Linked DNA regions of Homo sapiens. The protein of the gene in region 2 interacts with the protein of the main gene of each other region in a biochemical or structural test. Each region holds a gene or a part of one and is shown on either strand. Other genes may lie near its edges.

Region 1 (7,000 bases), on a different chromosome or scaffold from region 2:
AGCCCTATTTTAGTGGAAACATTTAAAAATAGCACTTGCTTAAAATGTTCTTTTATTCTGTAAGCATAATTCAAGGACCATGGCATTAGGGAGCTCCTATCAAATTAGTGTTTTTTAAAATGGCCAGAATTCTAGAATATTTGTTTATTCATTTGTTCAGCATGTCATTATTGAGAGCTGGTGTGCCAAGAAAATGAATGTGAGTTATTTTTAAAGTAGGGAGGCAAAATAAAAAGATTGTCTTAGGTCTTAGTCCATTTGTGCTGCTTTAAGAAAATACTATAAACTGGGTGGCTTATGAACAACAGAAATTTATTTCTCACAGCTCTGGAGGTGAGAAGTCCAAGATCCAGGCAGATTGAGCATCTGGTGAGGTCCCTCTTCTGGGTTCATAGATGATACCTTCTTGCGATGTACTCACATAGCAGCAGGGAGACAGCAGCTCTCTGGGGCTTCTTTGATGAGGTCACTGTAGGAGTCTATTCTTACGTTGCTATAAAGACATATCTGACACTGGGTAATTTATGAAGAAAAGAGGTTTAATTGGTTTACGGTCCTGCAAGCTCTACAGGAAGCATGGCGCTAGCATCAGCAAGGCCTCTGGGGAGGCCTCAGGAAGCTTCCAATCGTGGCAGAAGGCAAAGTGGGGAGCAGGCTTCTCACATGGTGGGAGCAGGAGCAAGAGTTGGGGAGAGATGCCACACAATTTTAAATAACAGATCTCATGAGAACTCACTCACTGTGGTCAGAATAGCACCAAGCCATGAGGGATTGATCTGCCCCCATGATCGAAATACCTTCCACCAGGCCGTACCTTCAACATTGGGGATCACATTTTAACATGAGACTTGGGCGGGGACAGATACCCAAACTGTATCAGTTACTAATCCCATTCATGAGGGCTCTGCCCTCATGATCTAATCACCTTCCAAAGGAACCACTTCCTAATACCATCATGTTGGGAATTAGGTTTTCAATGTAGGAATTTTGGGGTAACACAGACATTCAGTCCATAGTAACCTACATTTGGTAACATAGATGAATTTTTTAAACAATGCAAATCTCTGTCTTTCCATCTATCCATCCATTCATTCATTTATGTACCATTTTTTTCTTGGCAGGATTTGGCTCATTTGTGGAAAAGACTGTGATGCCTTACATTAGCACAACACCAGCTAAGCTCAGGAACCCTTGCACAAGTGAACAGAACTGCACCAGCCCATTTAGCTACAAAAATGTGCTCAGTCTTACTAATAAAGGAGAAGTATTTAATGAACTTGTTGGAAAACAGCGCATATCTGGAAATTTGGATTCTCCAGAAGGTGGTTTCGATGCCATCATGCAAGTTGCAGTTTGTGGAGTAAGCGCATTCATTTCCTATCAGGGGATATTGTTTCTATTATGTGTGTGAATTTTAAGTGTGATTTTACTATGATAATAGAAAAATTGACCTTAATTTTCATAGATTTGATTATCTTAGAGAAGTAATTTTAAGTAAACCCTTAAATTGCCTGTATACATAAAGTGCCTTTATAAAAGCATATTTAATCTTTATGCAAACCACACAGTTAGTTTATTCATGCGGGCTTTTAAAAGACAGAATGCTAACCATTTGAAACAGCGGGGCAACCTCTCTGTACTGTAGCTGGTGGTCTGGATTTTAGAAAAGCCCATGTGTCCTAACTTTCTGGCTTTGTACTAGAGATAGAATTGATGTTATTATCTGAGGCATCACCAGGAACCTTGAAATTGCTCAAAGGGAGAGTGTCTTGTATCATTTTCCTTTGGTCAGTTTTCTTCTCACTGTCTTTGAAAGACACATCTTTCTCCTGTGTCTTAGTAATTCAAAAAGAGAGAACTTTTTAAGCTCTAGTTTTTAACCTATATGAATAGATGTATTTTGAGAAGTGATACAATATTTGTAATTTTAATTGTAAGATTTTCAGTAGCAAGCCCATCCCTATTGGTTCAATAATTTGTATTTTATGATCCATGTAGCAGCTATGTATTTTGAGATGACACTTTAATGATGTGGCTGAGGCTGAAACTAGAAGACATTGTCATGTCAAGTTTGTCCTGCGTACCTACTCTTGTCTCATTTTTGTTCCCTCCAGTGCCCCCATTCTCTAGATGACCTTCTTTGATTTTAGAGGCCTCTTAGTGGTTATTTTTCAGTCAATTTTTGCTAAGGTGCTAATTGATGCCCAAAATAATAAGTGAAGGAATATGGATAGTAATTAAGAATTTTTCTATCACCACTGATGCTGGGCAATTTACTCAGCCTCTCCAGGGCTGTTTTCTTCTCTTTAAGAAGGGATCATGATAGTATCTACCTCATAGGGCTCTTGTGAAGTTAAAATGCATCAATCTCTATAAAGTACCAATGAGCATTCAGCAAATACTAATTCCTATATTGTTATTACTTTCGACTTTTCACTAGAGTGTTTGCAATTTAAGGTTAGTCCCTGCTGTTATAGCCGAAGCAAGTAGCATTCCAGGTAGTACCTAGCCTTACACCTCTTTTCTTACTAGCCATTGATGTGTGAGCCTGTTAGCAGCTCGTTGTGGGGAGGGCATTCTCTGGGCTGCCTCTAACTAGGCCTTAACCTGTGGTATTAAACAAGCCATAACACCCTTGATTGTGGCTGTTTTTCTGTGTTGGTCATGCTGATCCACTCCTCTAGATGCAAAAGAATCAGACATTCCACTTTTGAAAGATTGCCAGTATTAATAAATGTGATTCCCACCTTAAAGTATTTTACTGTCTTATGAAGATCTAAACAGACGTATTAAATAAATTAACGAAAGCAGGTAAATTCCTATAGTCCTATGATTTTATAATTATAAATTACCATAGTGACAAGAAGATTTTACAGTTACTTTAGATTCTTTATTGGAAAGGGCAAGGATAAAGTAAATGAGTGCATAAACAGTACTGATTGAGGAGTTAGAATGGGTGAAATTATCCTTAAACAAGATACTTATTTCTGTTATAAAAAAAGGAAGCCTCATATGGTGGGCTGATAAAGAAGGTGCATGGCATAGAACATAGAGCAGAGATGGGTGGATGGGGACAAGACAGCAGCAGTGGGGTAAAGTAAGGATAGGCTCAGACACTTTCATTTATTCAGCAAATGCTCATCAAGGGCTTACTGCTTGCCAAGCAGTGTGCTGGCTTGCTAGCTGCTGGAGATATGATGATAAGCAGAACTAAACCAAACCAAACAAAACAAAAAAACAGTTTTTAAAAAGAACTGAGAGATTGAGAGATACGGATGGTCAGGCAAGATATCGTTGTACATGGGATGGAAGAGCTTCATTCAGTGGGCTTTGTGTGTTTCTCAGCAAGATAATTACCATTGTATAAAGAGAAGACACAGAAAATACAGAATTAGGTTAAAAATACAATGGTGGCCTATATGAAAATTAAAGGATTTTTGTTGAATTACTGTGAATAGTGTTTTAAAATTGAAATCCTTTTCTTTTCAAGTCACTGATTGGCTGGAGGAATGTTACACGGCTGCTGGTGTTTTCCACAGATGCCGGGTTTCACTTTGCTGGAGATGGGAAACTTGGTGGCATTGTTTTACCAAATGATGGACAATGTCACCTGGAAAATAATATGTACACAATGAGCCATTATTATGTAAGTGCCTGGTTCCTTACATAGTGAATGTGTTTATGTTGGATTTTAATGTTTAATACTAAGAGCTTGTGGGTGACTGGCTTGGGGTTTCTCAGGGTTTGAGGTTTTGCTGTTTTGGTAAGTAGGGGTCCTGATTGAAAGTGCAGGAAAGCTAGTGTTGCTGTTTGTGAAGATGCAGCTTTGTATTTGCTTCCTTCTGCTCAGACAAGGGCCTCACTGGGGTGGGAAAGGGATGCCCAGATGCCACTTTCACTCTTTGCCTCAACTCCCCGCCCACAGCATTTGGTAGCACAGTCAGTACTCTTTCTAAATAAATAATTTATCTAGTCTCATACTCTTTGTTTTATACGATTTTTAAAAGCAGTCACTCTGCCTTTATTGAAAATAAATATTGGCAAAGCATTCAAGTTCTAGAAGAAATCCAAATGGTAAATCTTGGTCTTTTTCTTAAGTTGTAGATAATAGAATATTTAATTACTGACTATTCTTTAATTTCATTGTCCTTATATTTAATATACATAGATAAACTTACTATTTAAAACCTTTTGAATATGGAATTTTTTATTCATACATGAAAGTAAAGAGAAGAGGATTAGCAATTCATGTATACACACGACTCACTTCAGCAGTTTATATTTGATACTGTTATTTGAAAGCAGTCTTGTAATCTAGTTATATGTATGCAACTAGATGTAATCTAGCTATATATGGATTATATATGTAATCTAGTTATCTAAAGCAGTCTTGTAATCGAGTTATGTGTAATCTTGCATGTATAACTAGATTGAAAAATTAGAAGAGATTATAAGGGTGTATTTAAATACTAAATTATATTACTTGATTTCTTAGGATTATCCTTCTATTGCTCACCTTGTCCAGAAACTGAGTGAAAATAATATTCAGACAATTTTTGCAGTTACTGAAGAATTTCAGCCTGTTTACAAGGTAAATGTGTGAGATAAAAAGAACAAGATTCTAAACATTTTTGATTGTTAGAGGCAAATCATGTCTGAATTGAAATGTGGGAAAATGCCACCAGATAGGCAAACCGAATTTTACAAAAGTGGTTTATATTAATTTTTAATCACATATTATAAAACTGGTTTCTAGGTTTGACTCCTAAAGTTAGTTAGGAGGAAACATGGGAACTGGCATTTAAAGATAAAAGTTGCTCAGTGGATCCTAATTGGTTGAATGAATAGCAGTTGTATTTTACGTGTTTTATCTTTTAATTGCAGGAGCTGAAAAACTTGATCCCTAAGTCAGCAGTAGGAACATTATCTGCAAATTCTAGCAATGTAATTCAGTTGATCATTGATGCATACAATGTGAGTACATCTTAAATAAGATCAGTTTTGGACAATACCCTGTTGAGAATACTTTGTACAAAGAAAGTAAAACTTCCTTCATACACACTTTAGCGAGCCCAAAGTACTACAGAAAAACTTAAATTCTGTATGTATCTAGAGGAAAAACTTTATACATATTGTCTTACAAAAGCAAGATTCATGGCCTAAACAAAGTGAAAATGTGATAAAGGCATGTGGGGAGTATTTCCAAATAACTGTTTGTTTATCATTAAGGAATAGATCTCCTTGTTAGAAAGCAATTGTAAAACATAACTTACATTTAAACTTACAGGATTTCTCCAATCTTTTTCCTCCCCAAAATATCCTTTATAGAGTCATCTATTCTGATGAATTGTGCTAGAAAAGTTTTTTTTTTTGCCAATTCTTCTCTTCCCATATATTCAGAGGATATGGGTTTCTATTTCAGGAGGTACACACTCATATATACGTATACCATAAAATATATAAAAATGTAAATATACATGTGATTTGCCTATTTCAAAAAGATTTATAGTGTTGTTTTCCCCTCACAGATGGGAGGAAGTTGAATTGAAATTAAAGAGGAATTGGCTTATCCTTTTTGAGCATAATTCAGTGTACTTTAATCACACCGAGTTAGCCTTCATTAATAATCATTTAAATAATCTGAAGGCGGTTGTAATTTGGTAGGTAACCCTTGTGTGTCTCGTGCACCACTTTCAGCCCCCATCCCCCTAACCCTTTGGCAGCTTGAATTTTAGACATTTTTACTTCATGTCATGGGGGTACCATAACGCTTTGGAAAGGCCAGCCTACCATATGAGGCTTCCCTTTTTTATGGGGTACCATAATGGTTTGGAAAGGCCTGACTTGGAGGGGTTTTTATAAAGGTTTTTAATATTTTACTTGTTCCACAGCTTTTCCCATTCTCCCCTGTCTTAGATAATTTTCCTAACTCTTGTTCTTTCAGGGGTGTGAACAAGAGATAGCTTGCCATTGTACCCTTCTCCATTTGTCCTGAATAGTCTCATATGTTAAACAAGCCCTGGCTTGAATCCTTCCTTCTTGGGGGATTTTGTTTTTTTTTTTTTTTGGCTGGGCTACAATGGTTCCTTAAGCAAATTTGTTCCTAGACTGCATAGTTGATTGTTTACCCTAGTCCATAGTTAGCTGGAGAGGTAGGACTACAGAAATGCCATTTTGCCGATGGGGAAGACAGCATTTATTTCGTTTTTTTTTGGGGGGTTTCTGTTTTTGTTTTTGTTTTTGTTTTTTAGATGGAGTCGCACTCTGTTGCTCAGGCTGGAGTGCAGTGGTGTGATCTTGGCTCACTGCAACCCCTGCCTCCCGGGTTCAGGCGATTCTTCTGTCTCAGCCTCCCGAGTAGCTGGGATTACAGGTGCACACTGCCATGCTTGGATAAATTTTTTTTTTTTTTTGTATTTTAGCGGAGATGGGGTTTCACTGTGTTGGCCAGGCTGGTCTCCAACTCCTGAGCTCAGGCAGTCCACCTACCTTGGCCTCCCAAAGTGCTGGGATTACAGGTGTGAGCTACCACACCCGGCCTATTCCACATTTTTAAGACTCCTCCTAATTAGTAACAGCCCTCTGCACTGTGTGATCCTGAGTATTTTAACTCAGTGATTAAAACAGGAATACTCTTTTCAATTGTGTATTTTATTTTAAAGATTTGATCCTTATTAATTAAAACCTGTTTCTCTGGCCTCTGTGTTTTCTAGTTACTCAATTGGATTTGGCTTGTAGATACTTTATTGAAATATATTTTTTTCTGAGCAGTTTATCCATTGGTTTTATGCATTCAAGTAGCATTTTGTTTGACTTTTCCTGTGTATAATTAGGCATTCTTTTAGTCCCTTTCCTCAGAAGTCATTTTGGAAAACGGCAAATTGTCAGAAGGCGTAACAATAAGTTACAAATCTTACTGCAAGAACGGGGTGAATGGAACAGGGGAAAATGGAAGAAAATGTTCCAATATTTCCATTGGAGATGAGGTATGTTGTATAAA
Region 2 (2,758 bases):
TCCACAGGGAAAGACTCAAAGTCCAGCCTCAGTGCTGCCCGGCCCTTCAGCCACGGCCATGGTACTTGTGCACAGGCCTGGGGCAGCCTTGTGGGTAGGAGGAGCCCAGTGGGCTTCATTTCACGGCCTAGTCCTGCCCTTCCCAGCTGCATGACCTGAAGCAAGTTCCTGCCCGTCTCTGAGCCTGTTAACATGCAGGGGATATGGTGTTCACGGTAACCTTTCTTAGGAGGCAGCAAGGCCTGGGTTTGGCTTGTAAAAGATTTCCGTCCCAATGCACCCTGACGGTGGGCAGCTTGAGTGTCTAAACCTTCGGCCCTCAGGAGGTCTGCTGCGGGGTGCAGGTGCCCAGCGTGGCTGGGCTCACACTGATGGACCGGCAAAATGGGGAGGGCCAGGGTTGAGGCTGTTCCTCACAGACACCATCTGCTGGTTTGAGGAGGGGCCCCAGGCCCACAGCATGACTCCCTGCTCCTCAGATAAGTATGCTGTGCGCTTCATCCCTCGGGAGAATGGCGTTTACCTGATTGACGTCAAGTTCAACGGCACCCACATCCCTGGAAGCCCCTTCAAGATCCGAGTTGGGGAGCCTGGGCATGGAGGGGACCCAGGCTTGGTGTCTGCTTACGGAGCAGGTCTGGAAGGCGGTGTCACAGGTAAGTCTGTCGGTGCGGCTGCACGTGTGCACACAGCTGCTAGGCCCTTGCCTCCAAGCTCTTGGTGACAACAGGAGGCACCTGGAGGTGACAAGCCTGTGCTGGGTGGCCGAGGACAGGGAGGCAGGCCAGTCTGGCTCTGCCTGACCTCCTGTGCTCCCAGGGAACCCAGCTGAGTTCGTCGTGAACACGAGCAATGCGGGAGCTGGTGCCCTGTCGGTGACCATTGACGGCCCCTCCAAGGTGAAGATGGATTGCCAGGAGTGCCCTGAGGGCTACCGCGTCACCTATACCCCCATGGCACCTGGCAGCTACCTCATCTCCATCAAGTACGGCGGCCCCTACCACATTGGGGGCAGCCCCTTCAAGGCCAAAGTCACAGGTGAGCCTGGGGCCAAGCTATTGGCATCTGCCCAACGCCCGGCACCACAGCCACCTCTTAGCCCCACCCACTCTGCCTTGCAGGCCCCCGTCTCGTCAGCAACCACAGCCTCCACGAGACATCATCAGTGTTTGTAGACTCTCTGACCAAGGCCACCTGTGCCCCCCAGCATGGGGCCCCGGGTCCTGGGCCTGCTGACGCCAGCAAGGTGGTGGCCAAGGGCCTGGGGCTGAGCAAGGCCTACGTAGGCCAGAAGAGCAGCTTCACAGTAGACTGCAGCAAAGCAGGTGGGCAACCTGGGCCCCCGGCCCACCTTCCCACCAAAATGAGGCCAGAAATCACAGGATGGCCAGTGTCTGGGAGAGCAGGGACCGCCTTTGGGGCGTGGCTTTCACTTCTAGAGCCACCTCCCTGCCACCTCCTGGACCCCTCAAACAAAGACCAGGGAGGAGCTGGAATCTGCTAAGCTGGCCTGGGTTGGGGAGGTGCTGGCAGCTCTTTAGGAAGAGAGAACTGTCACCCCAGAACTGGCTTAGGGACAGGAGAGGAGAGCAGGACACCAGCGGGAGGAAGGGGGCTGGGACCTGGGACTGAGGACCCCTCTTGCCTCAGGCAACAACATGCTGCTGGTGGGGGTTCATGGCCCAAGGACCCCCTGCGAGGAGATCCTGGTGAAGCACGTGGGCAGCCGGCTCTACAGCGTGTCCTACCTGCTCAAGGACAAGGGGGAGTACACACTGGTGGTCAAATGGGGGGACGAGCACATCCCAGGCAGCCCCTACCGCGTTGTGGTGCCCTGAGTCTGGGGCCCGTGCCAGCCGGCAGCCCCCAAGCCTGCCCCGCTACCCAAGCAGCCCCGCCCTCTTCCCCTCAACCCCGGCCCAGGCCGCCCTGGCCGCCCGCCTGTCACTGCAGCCGCCCCTGCCCTGTGCCGTGCTGCGCTCACCTGCCTCCCCAGCCAGCCGCTGACCTCTCGGCTTTCACTTGGGCAGAGGGAGCCATTTGGTGGCGCTGCTTGTCTTCTTTGGTTCTGGGAGGGGTGAGGGATGGGGGTCCTGTACACAACCACCCACTAGTTCTCTTCTCCAGCCAAGAGGAATAAAGTTTTGCTTCCATTCTCCTTTGCGTGGCTGTAGCTTTGTTGGGGTTGGGGGACCAGTCAAGGCCAACCTGACAGGGGTGCCAATGAGCAGATCAAAGCATGGGCTGAGCACAGGTCACCTCCCTCCAGGGCTCCTGCTTCACCCCACCCTGACTCCAGAAGGCACCATCTATCTTTGCTTCCTCTGCCTCCCTGAGTTCAAGCCAACGTAAGGAGAGGAACATGTAGCAACCTGGAATGGAGCCCAGGCAGCAAGGAGGCAAAGAGCTGGGCAGGAGAGCCCATTACTGGGTAGGGTGGTGTCAGGAAGGCTCCCTGGTGGAGGTGGCCAGATAATCAACAGCAGGCCCGGCCGGGTGTGGTGGCTCACGCCTGTAATCCCAGCACTTCGGGAGGCCGAGGCAGGCAGATCACAAGGTCAGGAGATCAAGACCATCCTGGCTAACACGGTGAAACCCCGTCTCTACTAAAAATACAAAAAATTAGCCAGGTGTGGTGGCGGGCGCCTGTAGTCCCAGCTACTCGGGAGGCTGAGGCAGGAGAATGGTGCGAACCCAGGAGACAGAGCTTGCAGTGAGCCGAGATCGCGCCACTGCCCTCCAGCCTGGGCGACAGAGC
Region 3 (7,367 bases), on a different chromosome or scaffold from region 2:
AAAGTCAAGCTTCCAGTTTACTTCTTTGGGCCCCTGAGCTATTGAGTCTCCAGGCCCATGGGTGACCTTCGTCTCCACCTCCTGAGTGAAGGGCCCTTCTGCTGCCTCCTGGCCCTGCCAGAGGCTGGCCCCTCCCCGCATCTGTGTGGCTCAGACACTCACAGCTCAGGACACAGGATTCCAGGCCCCTGACCCATATTCTGCCCAGGCACTACCAATGCCAGGATCTGCCATCTGTGCCAGTGACCAAAGGTGGGGGTGACAGGGGTGGACGGGGCTGGTCAGTCCACCTCTGAGCCTCCCCAGCACCCCTGCCCTAGCACAGCCCGCCTAGCCCTGTTCTGTCCTTTGGGCAGACAAAGACGGCGGACCCTCACCTTGGTTCCTTAGTGGCAGAAGACACAGGGGGTTCTGGAGGCTTTAACTCCAGGCAGCAGAGCGGGAAGGCTCAGGCAGGGCAGGGGGAATCCTCCATAGCCCCTCCTCACCTGCAGGGCTGGCTGGAAATCTTTTAAGTTAGATCTCACCCAAATCGGCGAGGTTCTTTTTCCTTTTTTATCCTCTCTCCTCTGAGTTCCCCTGACCCCGCCTCCATTTAAATCTTTCTCTTCTCTTTTCTCTGCTTTCCTCTCTCCTTTTTTACTCCTCTATGTCCCATTCTTTTTAAAAAACAGATAGTTTAGGAATTTCAATTTACCTTTATTTCAGCACCACCTCCCCAAAAACATTCCTCCCAACCACAAAGCTCTTAATAACTTCATTTATATTCCTGGGCGTTAATTATTCCAAACAATGGTGCTAAGGAAAGAGAACCACAGACACAAGCCACTCCTGTGACAGCTGGCTCCTGTGGGCAGCCTGATCCTCTGCAGCGCAGAAATGGAAGGACACTGGGCAGGCCCAGAGATATTTTTGTGCCTCCTTTGGGAAGGCTCTTTGGATCTAGCCTGTCCACAATATACGGGCACCTTATGATGCCTTGAGTGTGCCAGAGACATTTCCCCTGGGTGCACGATGGTCCTGTTTACCACTGCCACAGTACCTTGAGAGGCCACAGGACGCTGTGGCTTTGAATGTGGACCTTGCAGACCAAAAGGTCAGATTCCTGACTCCAACACTTGCAGCCGTCCAGCCTTAAGCAAGACTTTTAAGCTCTCATAACCTGTTTCCAGACCTGAAAATGGGAGTAACGATCACCTGTAACTCATGGTAGCCTTGACCGAAGTCAGTGAGAGAAATCTGCACACAAGCTTGGGCCAGTGCTCAACAAAGGCTTGCTGGTATGGCCTGTGTTGTTGTTCACTGTGAGGTCACCGTGCGTGGGTTAGACAGTGTCCCCCACCCCCGCCACCACAAGGCACTCATGACCCGGCCTGTTTGTGCAAGAACAGATGATGCAAACCAGCATGGCACCCAGCGGAGCTGCTGCCAGCTTCTTGGGGACGCTGTGCAGCACATGGGCCTGCCACCAGCTGTCAGGACCCGTCCAACTGTTTTGGAAGTGCCTCGAGCATCTGCCACTGTCTGCCTCATGGTGCTTCTGCCCAGGCAGAGGTCAGGGCTGTGGCGGGGGTGCTGGCCCCAGCTGGCTCTGCCTGCGTCCCTCTGAGCCCCCTCAAGCCCTCGCCTCACGAAACAAGCTTATCTTCAGAAGAGCATTCCTGTCCTGTGCAGGGGCTCAGCTTCTGCCCTGCTTCAGGCCTTCCTCATTTACCTGCCCTCCCTAGGAGTCACCAGCCTCCTTGCCTCCTCATTCCAGTGCATACCCCTGGCTTCCCGAAGAGCCACCGAAGCCAAATCTCACATCCTCCAAGGGGAATGGGCCACTGAAATGAAAATGATTCTCCACCTAGAGGCACCAGAAACCAAGTCATGTTTCTGGGCCTCCACCTCTGGGGCCTGAGATGTGAACACACGGGTGGGAGTGTAGGTGCCTGGCTGTGTCCCTTCATATCCCAGATGCTCAATGCATGTGGCTATGTGCATGCCGTCCTCTGCTCAAAAACTCTCAGAAAGTGTTCCAACTTCTTGCTTGGCCTGGAAGGATGTGCCTCTCCCTCTGGCCTCCCCTTCTAGCCTCACCCCCATTTTTCACATGCAGAACCCTTTGCCAGAGCCACATTTCACTTTCCATCATCACCCCAGGTCCCTTGACTTCCCTGCCTTTGCCCAAGCTGCTCCTCCACCTGGAGGTCTCTGTTTCCACCCTGAGGCATCCCACCCATCCTTTCAAAGGCCATGGCCTCCTTAAATGTGTCATGCATATGCGTGTGCACACACATGCATGGTATTCTTGCATCCCTGCATTCCACAGCTTTGTTGGATCTCACATAAATAACATTCCTCCATTTCCTCTCCTAATCCCCAAACAGTTGAAAGCAGAGCACATGGCACCTTGGCTGCTATGGTCTCCCACAATACCGTGCATGCCTAGGCACTCTGCAACAGCTACATTAAATTAACTCCCACTCATGAAAACCTCTATCTGTGCGCCTGGCCTGAAAGCATTTCTGAAAGTCACTTGTCTGACACAGATACCGCCCAAGACCTACAGACCCAACAATAGCATCATTGATAAGTCCTTTTGCATTTCCATTTTTAGAAGTGCACAGCAGAGTGATATTCTGAGCCAGAGTCCTCCAGAAGAATGGGTAAGTACATGCAAATTGCTGAGTCTCTGTTCATTGCATCCAAAACGAAAGTCACCAGCGTGCTGTATAACTCAAGAAAATACGAGAGAGAGGGAAAAGCAACATCACAGTTTGACTACAAGCGGTTTCCAGTAAGTACTGCAGCCGAAAATCCCCACCAGCCAAAGAATCTTTTGCAAGATCTGTATAAGAAAGTTGAAAGCATGCATTACCTGTTAGGCTCTGAAACAAGGGTACAATTCAGGGGTAATACAAAGGATTTTCTTGAAAGTGTCTTAATTCAGAACATGCTCCCCGAGTTTTCCTTCTGCCCTGGCCCCAAGCTTCTGGCTGCTCTGCCAGGCAGTTCTGAAACGCTGTCCTTTGAAGCAGGGAGTTTATTTTGGGGCCACCGCATGACCAACGTTGACAAGCCAAACTATAAGATGTTATACATCTCAGATTTCCTGTTTGGAGGTTGCACTGAGGAAGCTGCAATCCTGCCTTCCGTTCCTCCGGGTGCATCGAATACAGACTCTCACTTCAGAGAGGATCCCGGAGCTTTGGCCCTCACGTGATGTCATCATTTGTGATCCTTGACATGGAGGCCATATATGGGTATGTTTCTGGAACTACCCAGGGGAGAGCCAGACAGGAGAGAGATGCAGTGGGTCAGAGACAGAGGCAGGGAACGAGGACGAGGAGACGCATAGTTGGGAGACAAAGAGTGAGGAGCAAGGGAGGAGGAAGAAAGGGGAAGAGGAGAAGTAAAGGCAACAAAGGAGGGAAGGCAAGACAGCAGGAAGGAAGAGGATGGAGTGAAAGAGAAGGGAAGAAGGGGAGAGAGGAGATGAAGGAGTTGACGTAAAAGGGCTTTGGAGAAATCAAGGTTTGGTGCTGAGCTTGTGGCAGCATTTGGGGATAGCAGGTGTCTGGCTGCTGGATACTGTGGGGTGGGGCTGGGGATACAAAGGGCCAGGGTACAAATGAGCCAACAAACAAACACAGAGGCATGCGGGCAAGCCCTGGGCAGAGATATACAACAGAAGAGAGCCCTTCCTCCTGGTCTAGGGAAGAACGTCCCATTTCTGGAATAGGTCAAATGTCAAAGACAACACATACACAGCCACATGCACTGAGCATCCGGGATGTGACAGGACATGGCCAGGCACCTACTCTCCCACCCGTGTGTTCACATCTCATGCCTCAGAGTTAGGGGTCCAGAAACATGACTTGGTCTGTTCCTCTAAGGGGAGAATCATTTTTGTTTCAGTGGCCCATTCCCCTTGGAGGATGTGGATTTATGATGGCCACAGCATGATTTCTCACTGATTCAAACTCAGGAAACCTCAGGATGCCTTTACACGCACTTCGAATATTCCACAAGGAAATACATCTCAGTATACAAGGTGCCACGGGGTTGAGTCAAGGTTCTGGAGGTCTGACTGGTGCTAAAGATGGGAAGGACACCAGTGGTCCCCAGGCAGTCCCCCAGCTTCCCTGGTACCTGCCAAATTGCTCATCACCCCAGCTGGGTCAGTCTTCCCAGGCCACTGTGGCTGGGTGGCCCTCAAAGTTAGCTCAAGTTCAGCCCCTTCCAGACCCATGTGCTATGGAGGGAGTGTAGGAGAAGGGCAGAGAAGGGGCTGTCAGATTCTTTTTACTTTTTGGAGACTCTGCTACCCAGTAGGATGTTCCCCGAGAGACGTCTCTGTGGGACGGCTCCCCGAGGCCGGGCTGCTTTCCTGGGCTCCTTGCTGGAGGCAAAACACAGGTTCCTCTACTTCCTGCCCACCACCTGCCCCTTCCCAATCTGACCTGGAAGGTGGGCTGTGGCCAGGCCAGGCCCCTCCTAGGTTGCCCTCTGCCTCATGGGCATGCACACATGCACACACACACACACACATACACACCCCAAACTCCATCCAAGATGTGTCTATTCCTTCCCTCCCCTTGAATATGGGGTGGCCTAGTGATGGACTTAACAATAGAATGCAGTGGAAATGATGTCCTGAGACTTCCAAGGCTAGGTCATGAGATGCTTTGTAGCTGCCATGTTGTGAGGAAGTCCAAGCAAGCAACACCCAGGGCCCCCAGAGCATCTAGCACCAGGCAGAGGGGTGAAGACACCCTCTCGGAGGTGGATCCTTCACCTGCAGCTGCCACAGCTAATGCCACGTGGAGCAGAGACAAACCACCCACAACTTCCTGACCCATAAACCACAAGCTATGATAAAAGGATTGTTTCGTGCCACTGGGGATTGAGGTAGTTTGATATGTAGTAATAATCAACCCAGACACTCACCAAATATTCACTGCGGTCTCAGCTGCATGCTCCTCAGCTCTCGTGTGCTACCCGTGAACTTTTTTCTGACTTTCCACTTGTCTTTGTTTCCATTTAAAAGAAGAAAAACAGATTCAAACTAAATTTTTTTTTACCTCACTCTTTACAAAAGAATGTAGTCCCAAGTCATTTCCCAGTTCTTGGGTTTATCAGACCAGAAGCTCCTTTTGGCTGAGATTCTGTCTTACAGGGGAATTGTGGTCCCTCTAACTGGAGGGACTCTTGGCTATCCTGGTGTTCAGAGCCCTCATTTACTAGTTCAGGCCCCAAGAGGTTCTGTGCCTTCTCTGAGATCACCTGGCAATTTGGGGGCAGAATAATTCACACATTGAAAGCCATGCCAGTGGGAACCATGCCCCATGGGATCAGACGCTGATGTCCTAAAGCACAGACACTCTCCTGACAAAGGCAGGGACAGCGTTCAAGCATCTGACTCGAGCCTGTGGAGGGCAGGCAGTGTGACCCAGAGGAAAGAGAACTGTGCTGGGATCTGGCCCTAGCTGCTCATTAGAATCATATTACACTTACCTATGCCTGCCCCACCCCAGAGATTCTGATTTAAATAATCTGTGTCGAGGCCCAAACAGGACTGATTTTTAAAAACTTTTTATTAAAGTTCAGTATACCCACAAAAAAGTGCAACTTTCACATATGTACAGCCCAGTACATTTTCACAGACTGGACACACCCAACATCTGAATATTACAAGCACCTCAAGAGCTCCCACCACCCACCACCTCCTGCCAGGGGTGACCACTCTCCTGACTGCTAGCAGGACAGGTTCCTTTGAACTTCATGTGAATGAAATCATTGCGTCTCGTTTCATTTAACAACACATTGCGAGACCTGCCCATATTGTTTCATGGAGTTGTAGATTGTTATTTTAATTGCTGTGTAGTATTCCATGCTATGAATATATCACAATTTATTCATTCTACTGTTGATGGACATCTGGGTGGTTCCCAGTTTTGGGCGATGATGAAGAGTGTAGCTATGAACATTCTAGTACATGTCTTTTGGTAAATATTCATACTCCTTTCTCTTGGGTATACACCTAGGATGGGGATCACTGGGTCAGAGTTTAGGTCTTCTTTCAACTTGAGTGAAACTGTCACATGGCTTTCCAAAGTTGTGTCAGTTTGCACTCCCATCAACCAGGCATAAGAGTTCCAGTCACTCTATATCCTTACCAACAATTGGTAGATTCCATCTTTTTTCTTTTTTTTTTTGAGATGGAGTCCTGCTCTGTTGCCCAGGCTGAAGCGCAGTGGTGAGATCTCGACTCACTGCAACCTCCACCTTCTGGATTCAAGCGATTCTCTTGCCTCGGCCTCCCAAGTAGCTAGGATTACAGGTGCCCACCACCACGCCCAGCTATTTTTTTTGTATTTTTAGTAGAGATGGGGTTTCACCATGTTGGCCAGGCTGGTATCGAACTCCTGACCTCAGGTGATCTGCCCGCTTCAGCCTCCCAAAGTGCTGGGATTACAGACGCGAGCCACCGCACCCAGCCTCCATCTTTTTTCATATTATCTATTTTGATGGGCATCCGTGGCATCTTGTTGCAGTTTTAATCTGCACACCCCTGATGACAAATTACGGTGAGCATTTGAGCAGCCCTGGCCTCAGTGATCTCTGGAGCCTTTCCGGGGTCCCTAACTTTGCACAAGGCCCACCAGCTACCCTGGGAACAGCCCTCCAGGGAGGGTTTTTGTGGGGAAACAAAGGGAATAGAAGGGGAATAAAAATGCAGAGGCAGAAACTATGCAACTGATCAACCTGCAAGGGAGTGGGAAGAAGAATGTGGCCACCACAGGAAAGCCCCAGGACTCACACCTGGAACCAAGGTGGGTTTCACTCTCCCAAGCCTAACTAGAACCTGCCCTCCCTTACTCTACCCCCTCACCTGGCATTATCCTCCCTGCTGACCTATTCTATATTTATCTCCCATATGTGCATTGCCTGTTTCTTCCATCTAGAATACTTTGTCCTTCTGTTCACTGCTGTGTGTCGGTGTCTATAGCAGTGCCTGGCACATAAGAGATGCCCATTCCATAACTGTTGGACATGTGTGCCCACACTCAAGCCCACAGTCCCTGAGGCAGAATTGGGAAGGGCCTTGGTTCTGCCTGCCAACCCGAGCCTGGCCGGTGGCTACAAAGACACACACACACTTTAGGTCTCTCCCTTCCAGACATCCCTCTCTGTTTATGTCAGCCTGAATGCCCAGGAATAAAGGGGTGCATGTATGTATTGGAGAGGCCATTTGCAGGGCCCTATACCTAGTCGGGTCTAGGGGGAACCAAGACCAGCACATGTTTCTGTGACAGTGACACCTCTTCCAGAAGGAGGGAAGGAGAGTGGAGGAGGAAGAGCCAGCCAAGAGCCCCCGG

Evidence for each region.
Region 1: the proteins of FLNA (region 2) and ITGB1 form a complex in vitro, tested with the Homo sapiens proteins (3 studies listed by BioGRID and IntAct).
Region 3: the proteins of FLNA (region 2) and ASB2 form a complex in vitro, tested with the Homo sapiens proteins (3 studies listed by BioGRID, with this or other methods).

What each region holds. Positions count from the first base shown.
Region 1 is NC_000010.11:32,920,231-32,927,230, reverse strand, and holds part of ITGB1 (integrin beta-1 isoform 1A precursor), read left to right. Parts: intron 1-1,121; coding exon 1,122-1,360; intron 1,361-3,490; coding exon 3,491-3,646; intron 3,647-4,495; coding exon 4,496-4,591; intron 4,592-4,884; coding exon 4,885-4,974; intron 4,975-6,845; coding exon 6,846-6,986; intron 6,987-7,000.
Region 2 is NC_000023.11:154,347,929-154,350,686, reverse strand, and holds the end of FLNA (filamin-A), read left to right. Parts: intron 1-479; coding exon 480-656; intron 657-819; coding exon 820-1,038; intron 1,039-1,121; coding exon 1,122-1,325; intron 1,326-1,650; coding exon 1,651-1,838; 3' UTR 1,839-2,156; downstream 2,157-2,758. UniProt on the Homo sapiens protein: Promotes orthogonal branching of actin filaments and links actin filaments to membrane glycoproteins. Anchors various transmembrane proteins to the actin cytoskeleton and serves as a scaffold for a wide range of cytoplasmic signaling proteins.
Region 3 is NC_000014.9:93,973,571-93,980,937, forward strand, and holds the start of ASB2 (ankyrin repeat and SOCS box protein 2), read right to left. Parts: upstream 3,001-7,367; 5' UTR 2,864-3,000; intron 1-2,863. UniProt on the Homo sapiens protein: Substrate-recognition component of a SCF-like ECS (Elongin-Cullin-SOCS-box protein) E3 ubiquitin-protein ligase complex which mediates the ubiquitination and subsequent proteasomal degradation of target proteins.